Regions from separate parts of the Homo sapiens genome. Here all the other regions are reported to be linked to region 1. Evidence: microRNA targets listed by miRTarBase, many of them from high-throughput screens and not tested one by one. Region 1 holds a microRNA gene; each other region holds the end of a gene's coding sequence.

Region 1 (4,629 bases):
GAAAAGCTGTGAGAGCAAACTTCTGAAAAATGATGCCTATTTTGACCCAGTTGTGCCAGTATTTATTTCTTGCATTGGCCTTAGGATGTTTATCTCACACAGATGATGATAAGCTGTTTACCACGCAAGAACAAGCACTGAATACACCAGTTGGCATGGAGTCAGAGACTACTATGTATCTCCTTATATTTCATTGCCTTATTTCATAAGTTATGTGAAAAAATAAAGGTAAATACAAATAAAAGGACAAGAGCAACAACAATAATTTATATTTCTGAAATGCTCACTTACACCACATCAATGTACTTGGGAATTTTATGTGAATCTTCTCATATGTCCTCACAATCTTTTACATACTGACACGGATTTGTCATGAAGATTAATGAAAAAACATGTGAAGATACGCTTGGATCCTCAAATATAACACAGGAGATATTATGCTTATGGCAACATAAAAGGCACATCTAGAGAAGAAAAATTACCTATGAAATTTCCTATTTACAACCTACTTAACCATCTATAAGTATGTGGGTAGTTCTATCACGTATAATTCACCAGCGCTATTAACTGTCTTTCTTTACACCAAATGGTCCCGAGATCTTGATAATTCTGATGCATGAGAGAGCAATACAGGAACAGCTGGCAGCAGGTACTTTCAGATTTATGATGGGAAGGCAGAGTTCTCCTAAGTGCCTCGCTTGGGACATACTGACTGTGATGATGTGGAATGAGAATTTCTTTAATACAGCAATGCATTAAAAATGGAGATATCACTGTCTATCTAGATTGATTAAAACATTAAAACCACTAGATTTGGCCAGGCGCGGTGGCTCACGCCTGTAATCCCAGCACTTTGGGAGGCTGAGGTGGGCGGATCACAAGGTCAGGAGATCAAGACCATCCTGGCTAACACGATGAAACCCCGTCTCTACTAAAAAAAATACAAAAAATTAGCCCGGCGTGGTGGCGGGTGCCTGTAGTCCCAGCTACACAGGAGGCTGTGGTGGGAGAATGGTGTGAACCCATGAGGCGGAGCTTGCAGTGAGCAGAGATGGGCTACTGCACTCCAGCCTGGGTGGTAGAGCGAGACTCCATCTCAAAAAAAAAAAAAAACCAAAAAAACCCAAAACACTAGATTAGTAAGGTTGGGAGAAAACAAAGAGATACTACACTAAATACCTCCACAAACTGTCAGCATTAGCCATCAATCAATATTAGAAAAATAAGAATTTTATCAAAAAAGAAAGATGGATTTGTAGAAGTGCCCAACCGCATACTCAGTTCTTGGAAAATACAAACCCTTCCAAGAGGAGACTTCAGGATTGCTAAGGACTTAAACCCCTTACCAGATGAATTAGGTGGTGCAATGCTTTACTGAAAACTATTTTAAAATCCTAGTCTTGTAATCATACAACTGGAATGGTCTCAAAAATAATGAGCCATATCAGAGGTAAGGTGGTAAGGAATAGATAATATGTAAAAATTATGAGCTTCTTGTACATAAGCCTCTACATGTCTAGGGATTTCCAGGCTCCTACCATTTGGTAAGTGGAGACTACAGTTTCCAGATCAGATGGAGGAACAGTGACCAAATTTATCTGGTGTCTAAAACAACATAAAACCCAGATATATACAGAAAAGCTTGCCTTCAGACACTGTAGAGTGATCTGTGAGAGAGGGGACACATTAGAACAGTCCATCCATTCTCCTGCCAACTTCTCAGAGAGAGAATATCGACTCCAGTGCAGAGAATGGGAACCCAGGCAAAGCCTGGCAATTTTCAACATTAACAGATTAAAATGGAAAAAAGAGACCATCTCACTAGATGCAGGGAGATATGTGACTAAATCTAACATCCATATCTGAAACATAATAACAGCAAATCAGGCATAGCACAGAGTATATCCTCAATTGCTTGAATGGCATCTATGAAAAAACACAGCTAAATTAAGACTTAATTGTTAACGTTCTTATGCTTGACGCCTGAGATCAGGAACCAGATGAGAATGTCCCACTCACCATTTCTGTGCAAGAATTATACCAAATTAAAGTAAGGAAATCAGGTAAGGACATAATATTTTATAGTTTGCAATCATGGATGAGTAAAATCAGGAGTCTGTCATCTTCAACCATTGACTTCCCCTTACCTGTGTTTGCAGTGGCTTCAATGCTTGCACTGCAAGTAAATTATCTCTGCAGGCATAGATATCCACAGAGTATTCTAGAAAAATATGTAAAATGAATAATAAAGCAGAACAAAGCAGAACACATTACAATATGTATATGAAAAACCACCAATGAAATCCTTTGAGTGATAACTGATGATATGCTTCTTAGTACTAATGTAATAGCAGTGTTACTAGGACTGATACCATTAGTTATAGTATTAGTACTGCTTGCAGTAGTACTAACAGGAAAATCTGCTGAATGATTACATGTCTGGCAGATATGTAGTTCAGATTTTCATATGGATTTCCACATTTCATACACACGACAAATCAGTACCAAAGAGACAGTATCCTAATGTTTTGATTTGTCATGGTGATTGAGGACATGTGTAGAACATACATTTGGAAATGGAAAAAAACCAGAAATATACAGATAAGCATAGTAATCACAGATAATCATGTGATCATAGAACAACATTAAGTTAAGACTGCTACGCAGTGTTAACCTCACAGAAACCATCCACATTAACCTCAGAAAAACAGAAAATAAGAAGAAATTCATCTTGCTGCTATACGTCCTCCAGTCTGACCTAATAAAAGGTGTTTATTGAACATGCTCTTATTTTTACCAAAGTACTAGTAATATAGTCTCTACTAGTACGACTACTCTACTACCAGTATCACTACAAGGAGGTGAAGGAAAAGCAGCAGTAGCTACATAACTGATGACTTACATGGTTTGCAATGTCCATGAGGCCTTTAGATGGATTATCTCTTTTGACCCTAACAACAAACATGTGCCATTGAATGTTTTACTGAATCAATGACTCAGGTAAGTTGCAAGGATTAAGGAGACAACATTTGTAGACTCTTTTGGGACCTACAAAGAAACAAAGAAGCTACGTAATTATAGTATGACTATGAAACATTTAATACCTAAAATAAATGACATACTAATTTACTATTCACGACCTATGTAGCTATCAGCATGTATATTTTCTTTCTCATTTCTATTAGTAATAATTTACCGGTGCTGCAGTTGGAGGATGAAAATCTTGAAAGGGCTGGCAGTAAAGCTCTACCAATCCATTATAATTGTGACGTCTCAAAATTTGCAAATCACAGATTATGGTACAGAATGAGGCTGTCTGTATTGAGTTCAGTCTAAATATATAGACACTGATTCCCCACCCACAAATATGTAAAATGCGACAACTAACAGATAGTTTAAAGTGGGAAGAAAAAAGGACAGGTTAAAAAGAATGACAACCTTCCTCAAACCACCAGCAATAATTGTGTGAAGACTTGTTCAAAAGTTAAAATTCCCTAAAAATATACACATGTATATACATATATTCACAGATATCCATGCAGAAATAAGAAAATGTCCCCAAAAGCACATATACACGAAATTGAAGGGATTATGTAACTCAGACTTTATCCACATTAATAATGAGTAAGTCCTGTATTGTTCATTTCTAGTTCATTGCCTGTCCATACCTAACACTCTTTATATTATTTTAAAAGAACTATGATAAAATTCTTCTAATGCTTATTTTCTAATGCAGATCAAAGATATGAATAAAAAGTTATACAAAGAAAAATATGTGGAGAATCTACCACAGGAGTTCCTAAATGGTATTCTTAACAGTTACATAATAATAATCAACACAAGGTAATCATGGCTTACAAATTCAGTTTCCAAAAATAACTGGTGGCTGATATGACATGTTAAATGAAGCAAATGGCTGGAAAACCCATATTGAGCTGACAGTTCATAAAACTCATGATGTGATAGGTGAGTTCTACAATTAGAAGTAACTCTTGGTGACTTAACAACTCTGATTATGCAGGCTATTTATTAAATACTGCAATTCATTATACAGAGGGAGGTTGTTATCTTTATGGAATTATCTGAAAAATGAAGAGAACTGGTTGACAGCTAAGGAAATGAGGCAAGAATAAAAGACAAAAAATGACAAAGTTATTTTGCCTGTTTTCCAGCCACAATCATACAGCAAAAATAAGATTGTATTCAAAACAGAAATCAATCAAAAATTGGTAGGATAAATAAAGTTTTCACACATATAGACACAAAACTATTTGGTTTCCTTTATTAGACATAACATAGGTTTGCTTGGATAAGTATTTTTCTTAATTTTAAACGACTAAGGGCCAGGCGTGGTGGCTCACACCTATAATCCCAGCATTTTGGGTGGCCGAGGTGGGTGGACCACCTGAGGTCAGAAGTTTGAGAGTGGCCGATACGGTGAAACCCTGTGTCTACTAAAAAAACAAACATTAGCTGAGTATGGTTGCGGGTGCCTGTAATCCCAGCTACTCGGGAGGCTGAGGCAGGAGAATCCCTAGAACCTGGAGCTAGAGGTTGCAGTGAGCCGAGATCGCACCATTGCACTCCAGCCTGGGTGACATGAGTGAAACTCCGTCTCAAAAAAAAAAA
Region 2 (3,000 bases), not on the chromosome of region 1:
GGACAGCCATTACAACCGCAGCCTTTTCACTGCCCCCTACTTTCTGTCTTTCCTTTCCACACAAAATGTGTCTGACAGCACCTTCTCAGAGGGCTTGCACATTACCTCATTGACTGGGGAAATACAGAGGAGCTCCGAAACTACACTCTGAAGTGTGTGCCAGATTTGGGTTGGAAGGATTAACTTCCCCTGCTTTTGCCCAGTTGTTAAGTGTCTTGCTGTGTTTTTCAGTTGGTAAGTCACATAGAAGAGATGCTCCAGACAGCCTACAACAAGCTCCACACATGGCAGTCACGGCGTCTGATGAAGAAAACGTGAGGTGGCCATGATGCTTACAGGTTTTGTGAGATTGAGAGAACTATGACCTGCAGCAACTCTGGAAACCTGGCCTGACAGACAAGCAGATGACCTCACAGGAGTGATAAGAAACATCTGCTCCACGCCAACTCCCAGAGCTGATGCTATTGTACTTGCACATTGGAGACTGAAAGGAAAGAAGGGACTAAATGCTGGGGAGGTAAATTAAGACAGAACCAAATGAGCTAAGTTGCAAATATATATATATACACACACACACATATATGTACATGTGTATGTACATATATATTTTAAAAGACTGTTTACTGCAGTTGCTCAGGAACTGCTTTTGATTCACATTAAGCTGCTTTCAGAAATTAAAAAAACACTTTTTAAAGGGTGCATTGATAAAATCTGAGGTTTTTTGGTTGTCGTTTTTTTCTGTGTACATTTTTTTCCTAAGTTTATGGCACAGGGTAGACCTTAAGTATTCCTCCTCCATCCTTCATTCTTCACCCTCCATTGGATCCTCAAGTTTTAATGAATTCCAATTATACCTTACATCAGCAAGTTAAAAAAAGTACTTTAAAATAAAGCAAAGGGAGACTGTTGCTCAACCATCAGGAAACAGTTGTCAGAAGACATCATTGGTTCTGTGTTTCCTACGGAAATAAGAAACGATAAATATTGCACTGAATGTTTGTGGTTTGGAGTCCCTGAATAATAAAGAGGGAATATATTTGCAGAAAGTCGCATAGGGTTTTTTAATGCAGAATTTTGTCAGAAGACAATGGCGCTGCATGTTTTTCTTTGAGTGCAAATGTACATTGCTAAGATTTTTTTAAGATGGCATGTGCTTTGAAAAGAAGATATTGCATTTTTAAGAGTTTAAAAATCTTATGAGTGAGAAATATTAAAAAAATCTTATTTTCACCTCTTTAGAAGAAATAAAAGATGTTTCTCCTATCTCCTTTTCTCTAGTATTTGACTGTTACTGTCCTTGGCGAATCGATAATCATTGCATAGTGACTGAAAAGCCTAAGTGCAAAAAAAAAAAAAAAAGATGTTCTTGTTTCTGAACTTCGTGCCATATTTTGTTCCTGATGGGATCAACTTAATGTTTAAGACTTTAGATGTCTTGTATTAAAAATTACACAAAAAAAGTAAAACTTTTTATACTTACCCTTTTAACTCTAACACATCTCTGGTTTCTCATTATGTGTGAATTTCCTTGGGTGGGCTGCCTGAGAACTGTTCATTTTATTTTAGGCCATGTTACAAACTGGTTATCCTTCATATAATGACTGCTAAGGTCAGAATCTAAGCCAGGCATGGTAGCACATGCCTGTAGTTCCAGCTACTTGGGAGGCTGAGGTAGGAGGATCACTTGAGCCCAGAAGTTCAAAAGTCCAGACTGAGCAACATAGTGAGACTCCATCTCTTTTTTTACAGAAAAAAAAAGAAAAATTTATGAAGACCTTGAACTGGTAAAGGGAAAGAAGCCACATCATTTTCTGCCTTCAGTCTTCCCATTTCTCTTTCAGATCAGTATATGTACTGGTATAATCCCTTAAAATTTACACTTTCACAAAGTACTTTCAAATGTGTTACTGCTACAGTGGGGCAAATAGAAAAATGATTGAAATAAAAAAAAGTGGCTATTGGGCAAGGCAGACATAAGAAATAGAATGTTCTGTTGAGTGCTGTGTTGAAAATTAAGTTGTAAGCTGGGCATGGTGAGTCATACCTGTAATCCAGCACTTTGGGAGGCCAAGGCAAGAGGATCACTTGAGCTCAGGAATTCAAGACCAGCCTGGGCAACATAGCAAAACCTCATCTCTACTAAAAGTAAAAAAAGTTAGCTGGGCGTGGTGGTATGTGCTTGTAGTTCCAGCTGCTCTGGAGGCCGAGGCGGGAGGATTGCATGAGCCCAGGAGATTGAGGCTGCAATGAGCTATGATCACACCACTGCACTACAGCCTGGACAGTAAGACAAAGCCCTGTCTCAAAAAAAAAAAAAAAAAAAAAAAAAATATATATATATATATATATATATATATATAAAGCCTGAAGGAAAGACTTCATTTAAAAGAGCGTTTTAGCTAAGTCTTGAAGGTTGAGTAGGATTTTGTGAGGTAGAGAAGAAAGTCATCTCTTCTAGACTGAGGGAAGAGCATGATGATGAGAAGGTTTGAAAGACTGAAATATGTTAGAAGAACAGGAAAGATGTGTTAGATTGGAGAGTTGGAAGTGACAAGTAAGGCTCAGAAAACCATGTTAATTCAGGTTGTGAATGGCCTTGTATGCTAAAGTAAAATACTCAGACCTTACCTACTAGGCATGGGAGACTTGAGAGAAAGTTTTAAGCAAGTTGCTTTTATGGGGGGGTTTTCTGGTGGTGGGGGGTTAGGCAGGGGTTAAATAACTTGGCAATTAGGACAGATTTAGAAGACTTTCTGAACAAACCACACAGGAAAGCGTCTACATTAAAATGAAGTCCTGGTAAATAGGAAGGGCCTGAGTAACAGCATTTCTACAGTGTATGTGACTAACTCACAGGGAGTGAAGGAATCAAGGGTGATTCACAGAGATAGCTGTGAATTTCATGTCTAGCTTGCACTTGAAATATTTGAGCCTTGGATACCTTTAGCAATGAACTTCAGCAGCTGTATAGGCCTTTTATGGCCCTTCACCTTCTTGCGG
Region 3 (3,000 bases), not on the chromosome of region 1:
AATTAGTTATCTTGAATAAGCAGATAATTGTAAAGGATGATTTTCATCATTATCTGCTTATAAGGCATGTAAGAAGTTTATGTGTTCAATTGGTGGTAATGGTTTGATACTACTTGGAAAACACTTGTCTGGGAAGGTAATGTTCACTCGACCTGCCACTGCTTGGAATTGGGAGATCGTTTTAGTCAAATTGATTGGCAAAGTTAATCAACACCCCATGTGGCTTTTTCTTTGTTCACTATAAACAATTGGTCATTGGATTAGACCAGTTGACGAAAGTAGTGATTTTGCCCCTATATAGATGTTATTTTGTTATGCAATATTGATTTTTATTTTTCTATTAAAATATGCTCATGGTCCCTTCTTTTGCTTCTCCCCATTCATTGTCTCCTGCAGGATCAATATCAGTTTTCCTATCGTGCCGCACTAGAGTACCTGGGCAGCTTTGACCACTATGCAACGTAGAAACCCCTGACCCATTCTGGATTTTTACTACAGGCCCTTCAATATCCATGGAGTCTCTTCTGAGCCATACAGGGCACTTGAGAAGTCCTTCTTAACTTCTAGCTAACAACTACTTAGTGGGACTATTACACACAAAACAAATTAAAAACAAATTATTCCAGGTGGACCAAGAATTCACAGTTTAATAATCTAACCTGAAAAATAATGAAGAGAATCCTGACTGATGAGGCATCTGAAGGATTTTATTTACAGATACCTCAAGGATTCAAAATCAAGGGAAGAAGAAATCACAGCAAAGAACCACCATCTTATTCAGGATTGCTTGAAAGGTGCAAGGAGAAATTGCCAGAATGCTGCAGTTCAGCACAAGATATGTGCTGGTGTGGCTTCTCACAATGAAACGGACTCTGCTTTGACATCGCCCCTTCCCACCATACTGCTCATAATAACATTTTAGGGGGAAAGGGGAGGGAATGTTTAAAAAGAAAGTCCTTGATTTAGTTTTTTAGTATTGTAAAGATACTGCTGACCTGTGCTTCATTTCTAACTGTGTAAACTTTTTTTTAACAAAATGTATCATTCGATAAAGTGAATTTTAAAAAAGTTACATAACTCTTCATTTTTTTATTTCCAAATCGTAGGTTTTTTTAAGCTGTAGAACTGTTATCTGTAATATCTTGCTGTAGAAATATCAAATCATTTGAAAATTTGCACATTTTTGTGCAAAACTCAATCTACAGTATCAGTCTCGTCAGATATATTAATTTTACACTTCAGTTTTGATTGGTGAGAAAGTACCCATTCTCTTCAAATAATCAAAGATAATTATTATTTTGTTTTGTTTTTGGAATCAACAGGGAGGCGCAAAGTATAAAGTTGCTGCTAACATATATACATATATATCCATATTTTATAAGGGTGTCTATGTATATATAGACAGTGTGTCCACACAAAAAATAGATACAGTTATCAGTCAGTCAGTTCTTCCATGATTTAGTTTTTTTAAACGTAGAAAAGCTATTGTAAACATCTCTTTCCATTTATTCTTAATTTTTTGACATATTGGTATTTCTTTAAAGGGAAATGAGGAATGCACATCAGTGATTGATTGTCAAACCTCACCCCCTGATTTCCTACCTAATCTACCCCCACCTAACCAATCAATCACATCCACAAATTGTTTTGTTTGTTTGTTAGTCAGGCTTCCAACAAAGTTCAATATTTCTAACACTCTAGTGCAATAAAAATTATTATTAAATAGCTAAGAGGTGTGCATGTGGGAAAGGTCAGTGCATATCCCTTTAGGAGGGGAGAATGTTGTAATATATCAGCTATCGAGTTGTTTAAAAAAAGTGTATTCAATCGTATATTGTCTATAGTATGTGCTATGAAATTTGCATTTATGATATGTAACAGGGGCAAAGCCAAATTCATGTTACTCTGTTCAGTCAGAAACATTTTGTGGCATACAGCATTCCTGGGAAGTGCTGTACTTTGTTTCGTTTTGGTTTTAGTTTTGCATTTAGAGTGCCTTATAATTGATGCCTATTTTAATAGCATTTCTTTTTAGCTTTTGGTTCGTATTTCCATTCACTGTTCGTATCTGTTACTTTCTATTAAAGCATTATCTGTTTACCACATGTACAAAAACTCTTTGAATAATATGCATTCCTAGTTTTCAGCCAAGTCGGGGATGTTAGTGATTGTACCAGCCCAAAGCACTTGGATAATCAGGGCCCTTCTTCCTTTTATAATCAATCATCAACATCAGAAAAAGCTACTTGTTTTATTTATATTCCCTTCCAAATCCGCTCTGGAACATGCAGTAACTGCACCAAACTTATTTTAGTAACAAATATCATTGGCAACTTTGGAATATATTTGATATTCCATTAGGATTTTTCTAAAAGGGGAAATAAACTATATATATATATGTATCTTACCCCCAATTCTTCCAACAGAATTTCTATAGGAAGCCATGGATGATGGCATAAGTTTGCCACATATTACATGATTTTAAATAATCCTCAAAATACCCAAGGAACTCTTAAAGAGTTTTGGTATGAGTATACTACTTTGGTTTAATTTTAGCTTCATGGATGTTCTGCATGGAAGGATTTTTGTTTTCCACATTTTCCCATTGCTAGCAGAGTGAAATCCAAGAGACCAAACATTTGCAAGCATTGTATTTGAGCACTTTTGTAAAAAACAAAGAAAAAGAAAAAAAAGAAAATATATATAATACTAAAAAAAAGTATCTAGAAGGCTACCTCAGAATGAGACTCTCTAACCTACATCAGAACCAGAGAAGAATGTGCACTATGTGGGTCTGTTATCATTATTTTCTTTTAGTTTGTATCTTTTTGGAGATTTATCCAAGTGCCAGATTACTCAGTGCTATAATTTTCTTTTAGTTAAACAAAGGGGGTCAGACAGACATTGCATCATCCAGACATGCCTTGTTGGACATGTAGAATCCGATGGAGCACTGCACACCAGAATGATTGGCCAATGAGCAGCTTCTCTCCCTGAAAC
Region 4 (3,000 bases), not on the chromosome of region 1:
ATGGTTATGATGTGGACCCCAGTCCCTAACACAGAGATGTCTTGGGATAAAGAGGGTAAATATGCAATGGCGTGGGGTGTTGTGGAAAGGAAACAAACGTATGGTTCGTGTAGAAAGCAACGGCATTATGCTTCACATACTGGAGGGGCAGTGGGTGCCAGTAGTGTCCTGCTGGTCCTTCCTGAAGAACTGGATACAGAGACTATAAATAACAAGGTTCCCCCAAGAGGAATCATTGTTTCTATCATATGTAACATGCAATCTGTTGGCCTCAATAGCACCGCTTTGAAGATTGCCCTTGAATTTGATAAAGACAGATCAGACTGATAACCTTAACACCATAGGTGCAAAATGAGTTGTTCTGAGGTTTTTTTGAAACATTAAAGTTCCAAAACATGACATTTTTAAGAATAAATTTGAAATAGAGTATAACTGAATGCAGAGAATTATGTACCTCTAATTGCTTAATTTTGTAATGGTCTTTTATTGTAGAATTGGTTCTTTATACTCAGGGAAGTAATTATATTGTTTTTACTTTTTGAAAAAAGTGTTAACTCTTGAAATAAAATATTCTGATAAAATATGTACTTTCTGCATGTGTAATACAGAGAAAATCTCATTCAACAGGAGCCTCCAAATATCCGAGGTTTTTTTTCTTTTCTTTTTTTTTTTTTTTTTTTTTTGAAATGGACTCTTGCTGTGTTACCCAGCCTGGAGTGCAGTGGTGTGATCTTGGCTCACCACAACCTCTGCTTCCTGAGTTCAAGCGATTCTCCTGCCTCAGCCTCCCAAGTAGCTGGGATTACAGGCACCCACCACCATGCCCAGCCACTTTTTGAATTTTTAATAGAGACAGCATTTCGCCATGTTGGCCAGGCTGGTCTCGAACTCTTGATCTCAGGTGATCCATCCGCCTCAGCCTGCCAAAGTGCTGGGGATTACAGGCGTGAGACACTGTGCCCAGCCCAAATATCCTTTTAATATGAGAGCAGAAACAAAAGCATGAGAAATGGTATATTAGTTATCCACTACAGCTTAAAAGAAACGTTCAGAGAAGGAATCGGGAAATCAGGAGCAATATAGTCACGTGGGTCTGGCGCGGTCTCTAATGAGGTTGCAGACAAGGTGTTATGATCATCTGAAGAATTCTCCAGGGCTGGAGGAAATGCTTCCACATGGCTTACTTGCATGACTGCTGGCAAGAGTCAGTTCTCTGGCTGGTGGGTGGCAAGGGGACTCAGTTTGTCACCACATGGACCTCTCTGTAGGGCTGCTTGAGTATCTTATGGTAGTTGGCTTCCCGCAGAGTAAGTGATGAGACAGAGAGTGCCAGGCAGAAGTCACTCTTTTATAAACTAGCCTCAAGTCACATACCATCACATTTGCCAAATTCCATGGGTTACATGGGGCCTAATAAATGTTGAAGAGATTATATACATTGTGAATATTAGGAGGCAGGAATCACTGGGTGTCAACTTGGAAGTTGGGTACCACAGTCTGACCTCTGGTCCCCAATGATTTATGTCCTTCCCAATGCAAAATACTCTTACCTCCTTTCAAATCCTCCAGAAGTTTCACCTTAATATAGCATCAGCTCAAAGCCCAGTATCTTATCATCTAAATCAGGTCAGGTGCAAGTGTGAATGAGGGCTCCTTGGGATGAGTTCCTTAGGTACAGCAACTCAAGTAGTTTCTCTTAAGACCTGTGAACTGTAGTTATTTGCTCCCCATATGTGTAACATACCGTAGCACAGCAGATATAGGATAATTGCTAGATACCGTCCTCTTCAAAAAGTAGGGAAGTGGAAGACATACAGGAGACTGGCAATTCTGAAATTCAGTCAGACAGAGGTTGGCAACTCTGATTAGTATTCAAGGCTTCAGAATAATTCTTAGTTCTTGGCTATGTTCTCTGGGCTCTTAGTTCTACCTTACGAGTTATACTTTTTCTTTTTTTTAAGAGACAGCTGTTCACCATATTTCCCAGGCTGGTCTTCAACTACTGGGCTCAAGTGATCCACCCACCTCAGCCTCCCAAAGTGCTGGGATTATAGGCATGAGCCACCGCACCCAGCCCCTGAGTTATACTTTTTTTAATTGTTCTTTTTTACTTTTTTTTTTTTTTTTTTGAGACAGGGTTTCCCTCTGTCACCCAGGCTGGAGTACAGTGGCACAATCTCGGCTCACTGCAGCCTTAGCCTCCTGGGTTCAAGCAATTCTCCCACCTCAGCCTCTCGAGTAGCTGGGATTACAGGTGCGTGCCACCACTCCCGACTAATTTTTGTATTTTTAGTAGAGACAGCGTTTCACCATGTTGGCCAGGCTGGTCTCGAACTCCTGACCTCAGGTGATCCGCCCCCCTCGGCCTCCCAAAGTGCTGGGATTACAGGCGTGAGCCACTAAGCCTGGCCGCTTCCCCATACCTTTTTTTCATGAAAGGTAGCGTATCTTTCTAGCTGAGTGGTTTTCTCAGTGTGCTTTCCACTTGTAGAAGTTTGGAGACCCAAAGGCCTTTTTATACTCTCTTTCCTTTCCATCTAAGTTAACAGTGGTTCTGCCAATATAATATTTTATTTCTCTAATTTTTGAATTTTTTTTAGCAACCCTATTAACTGACAATATAATATTTTAAAATGTTAAGAGTATCCTGTGAATTTTATTGGGGTTTATGCCAGTAGACAAAAGCCACCCCAAAGTCCCTTCAGAATATCCCCTCTCTAACTTGGGGCTTGTCTCTGCCAAGATAATGGGAAGAACTAATTACGCTAATAATCTAATGAACTCTATTGTTTAAATAGTTCTCTGAAGCACCATGTTGATTCATTTTGAAGTCTTGAGAAAGGATTGTATAGTCATGCCCTCAATATCATCTTTAGACTATGTTTTCCTGGAAGTGCCCTCAATTATTATCTTTGCCTTGAAGCCATTTCTTAATTTTGGCATCATTTGCAATCTGAAGAGTCTGGGAATTTTTTAAACCATCAATTATTAATTCTTTAC
Region 5 (3,000 bases), not on the chromosome of region 1:
GCCCTGAATGTTTTGTTCAGCTTCAAATAAGTAGACGCTGAAAAATGTAGCTTTATGCAATGCAGCTGAGCTCTCTGGATATAAATTTCCTTCTAGCAGGTGGTAGATATCAGGTCATCAGTCTGCACACCTCCCTTCAGAGCCTCAGGGATTCCCAGAGGTGCATCAGAGGACGTGGGCAGCCAAGGGGGTCAGAGGCACCTTACAAAATAAGCCACGGGTGGTAACATTCTTATATCATCACCTTTACAGCTCGGCTTCTTCAAAAGAAAATATGAAAAGATGACCAAAAATCCAGATGAGATTGATGAGACCACAGAGCTCAGTAGCTGAACCAGCAGACCTACCTGCAGTGGGAACCGGCAGCATCCCAGCCAGGGTTTGCTGTTTGCGTGAATGGATTTCTTTTTAAATCCCATATTTTTTTTATCATGTCGTAGGTAAACTAACCTGGTATTTTAAGAGAAAACTGCAGGTCAGTTTGGAATGAAGAAATTGTGGGGGGTGGGGGAGGTGCGGGGGGCAGGTAGGGAAATAATAGGGAAAATACCTATTTTATATGATGGGGGAAAAAAAGTAATCTTTAAACTGGCTGGCCCAGAGTTTACATTCTAATTTGCATTGTGTCAGAAACATGAAATGCTTCCAAGCATGACAACTTTTAAAGAAAAATATGATACTCTCAGATTTTAAGGGGGAAAACTGTTCTCTTTAAAATATTTGTCTTTAAACAGCAACTACAGAAGTGGAAGTGCTTGATATGTAAGTACTTCCACTTGTGTATATTTTAATGAATATTGATGTTAACAAGAGGGGAAAACAAAACACAGGTTTTTTCAATTTATGCTGCTCATCCAAAGTTGCCACAGATGATACTTCCAAGTGATAATTTTATTTATAAACTAGGTAAAATTTGTTGTTGGTTCCTTTTAGACCACGGCTGCCCCTTCCACACCCCATCTTGCTCTAATGATCAAAACATGCTTGAATAACTGAGCTTAGAGTATACCTCCTATATGTCCATTTAAGTTAGGAGAGGGGGCGATATAGAGAATAAGGCACAAAATTTTGTTTAAAACTCAGAATATAACATGTAAAATCCCATCTGCTAGAAGCCCATCCTGTGCCAGAGGAAGGAAAAGGAGGAAATTTCCTTTCTCTTTTAGGAGGCACAACAGTTCTCTTCTAGGATTTGTTTGGCTGACTGGCAGTAACCTAGTGAATTTCTGAAAGATGAGTAATTTCTTTGGCAACCTTCCTCCTCCCTTACTGAACCACTCTCCCACCTCCTGGTGGTACCATTATTATAGAAGCCCTCTACAGCCTGACTTTCTCTCCAGCGGTCCAAAGTTATCCCCTCCTTTACCCCTCATCCAAAGTTCCCACTCCTTCAGGACAGCTGCTGTGCATTAGATATTAGGGGGGAAAGTCATCTGTTTAATTTACACACTTGCATGAATTACTGTATATAAACTCCTTAACTTCAGGGAGCTATTTTCATTTAGTGCTAAACAAGTAAGAAAAATAAGCTCGAGTGAATTTCTAAATGTTGGAATGTTATGGGATGTAAACAATGTAAAGTAAGACATCTCAGGATTTCACCAGAAGTTACAGATGAGGCACTGGAAGCCACCAAATTAGCAGGTGCACCTTCTGTGGCTGTCTTGTTTCTGAAGTACTTAAACTTCCACAAGAGTGAATTTGACCTAGGCAAGTTTGTTCAAAAGGTAGATCCTGAGATGATTTGGTCAGATTGGGATAAGGCCCAGCAATCTGCATTTTAACAAGCACCCCAGTCACTAGGATGCAGATGGACCACACTTTGAGAAACACCACCCATTTCTACTTTTTGCACCTTATTTTCTCTGTTCCTGAGCCCCCACATTCTCTAGGAGAAACTTAGAGGAAAAGGGCACAGACACTACATATCTAAAGCTTTGGACAAGTCCTTGACCTCTATAAACTTCAGAGTCCTCATTATAAAATGGGAAGACTGAGCTGGAGTTCAGCAGTGATGCTTTTAGTTTTAAAAGTCTATGATCTGGACTTCCTATAATACAAATACACAATCCTCCAAGAATTTGACTTGGAAAAAAATGTCAAAGGAAAACAGGTTATCTGCCCATGTGCATATGGACAACCTTGACTACCCTGGCCTGGCCCGTGGTGGCAGTCCAGGGCTATCTGTACTGTTTACAGAATTACTTTGTAGTTGACAACACAAAACAAACAAAAAAGGCATAAAATGCCAGCGGTTTATAGAAAAAACAGCATGGTATTCTCCAGTTAGGTATGCCAGAGTCCAATTCTTTTAACAGCTGTGAGAATTTGCTGCTTCATTCCAACAAAATTTTATTTAAAAAAAAAAAAAAAAGACTGGAGAAACTAGTCATTAGCTTGATAAAGAATATTTAACAGCTAGTGGTGCTGGTGTGTACCTGAAGCTCCAGCTACTTGAGAGACTGAGACAGGAAGATCGCTTGAGCCCAGGAGTTCAAGTCCAGCCTAAGCAACATAGCAAGACCCTGTCTCAAAAAAATGACTATTTAAAAAGACAATGTGGCCAGGCACGGTGGCTCACACCTGTAATCCCAACACTTTGGGAGGCTGAGGCCGGTGGATCACGAGGTCAGGAGTTTGAGACTAGCCTGGCCAACATGGTGAAACCCCATCTCTAATAATATAAAAATTAGCTGGGCGTAGTAGCAGGTGCCTGTAATCCCAGTTACTCGGGAAGCTGAGGCAGGAGAATCACTTGAACCCGGGAGGCAGAGGTTTCAGTGAGCCGAGATCGCGCCACTGCACTCCAGCCTGGGTGACAGGGCAAGACTCTGTCTCAAACAAACAAACAAAAAAAAAGTTAGTACTGTATATGTAAATACTAGCTTTTCAATGTGCTATACAAACAATTATAGCACATCCTTCCTTTTACTCTGTCTCACCTCCTTTAGGTGAGTACTTCCTTAAATAAGTGCTAAACATACATATACGGAACTTGAA

The links. The annotated mature microRNA hsa-miR-891b reads UGCAACUUACCUGAGUCAUUGA and lies in region 1 at 2,989-3,010, opposite strand. An mRNA with a match to its seed (bases 2 to 7 or 8) in the 3' UTR can be bound and repressed. Matches are read on the target gene's strand: a 7mer-m8 pairs with bases 2 to 8, a 7mer-A1 pairs with bases 2 to 7 and ends in A, and an 8mer does both.
Region 2: miRTarBase lists GTF2H1 as a target of hsa-miR-891b. Seed matches in the 3' UTR shown: 8mer at 545-552.
Region 3: the mRNA of PTPRD is a reported target of hsa-miR-891b. Seed matches in the 3' UTR shown: 7mer-m8 at 1,339-1,345.
Region 4: the mRNA of LACTB is a reported target of hsa-miR-891b. The part of its 3' UTR that is shown has no 7-base or 8-base seed match.
Region 5: the mRNA of ITGA2 is a reported target of hsa-miR-891b. Seed matches in the 3' UTR shown: 7mer-m8 at 858-864.

Annotation. Positions count from the first base shown.
Region 1 is chrX:145,998,112-146,002,740 of GRCh38, forward strand. It overlaps MIR891B (microRNA 891b), which reads right to left and starts at 3,020; the gene lies at 2,942-3,020.
Region 2 is chr11:18,365,552-18,368,551 of GRCh38, forward strand. It overlaps GTF2H1 (general transcription factor IIH subunit 1), which reads left to right. Exons shown (of 15, transcript NM_005316.4): 15 at 232-1,494. The coding sequence ends at 318. Among named protein-coding and RNA genes, the nearest start is that of MIR3159, 21 kb to the right of the region's middle.
Region 3 is chr9:8,315,339-8,318,338 of GRCh38, reverse strand. PTPRD (protein tyrosine phosphatase receptor type D) reads left to right here. Exons shown (of 46, transcript NM_002839.4): 46 at 397-3,000. The coding sequence ends at 465. Among named protein-coding and RNA genes, the nearest start is that of DMAC1, 520 kb to the right of the region's middle.
Region 4 is chr15:63,141,479-63,144,478 of GRCh38, forward strand. LACTB (lactamase beta) reads left to right here. Exons shown (of 6, transcript NM_032857.5): 6 at 1-583. The coding sequence ends at 327. Among named protein-coding and RNA genes, the nearest start is that of RPS27L, 14 kb to the right of the region's middle.
Region 5 is chr5:53,090,267-53,093,266 of GRCh38, forward strand. It overlaps ITGA2 (integrin subunit alpha 2), which reads left to right. Exons shown (of 30, transcript NM_002203.4): 30 at 253-3,000. The coding sequence ends at 333. Among named protein-coding and RNA genes, the nearest start is that of MOCS2, 18 kb to the right of the region's middle.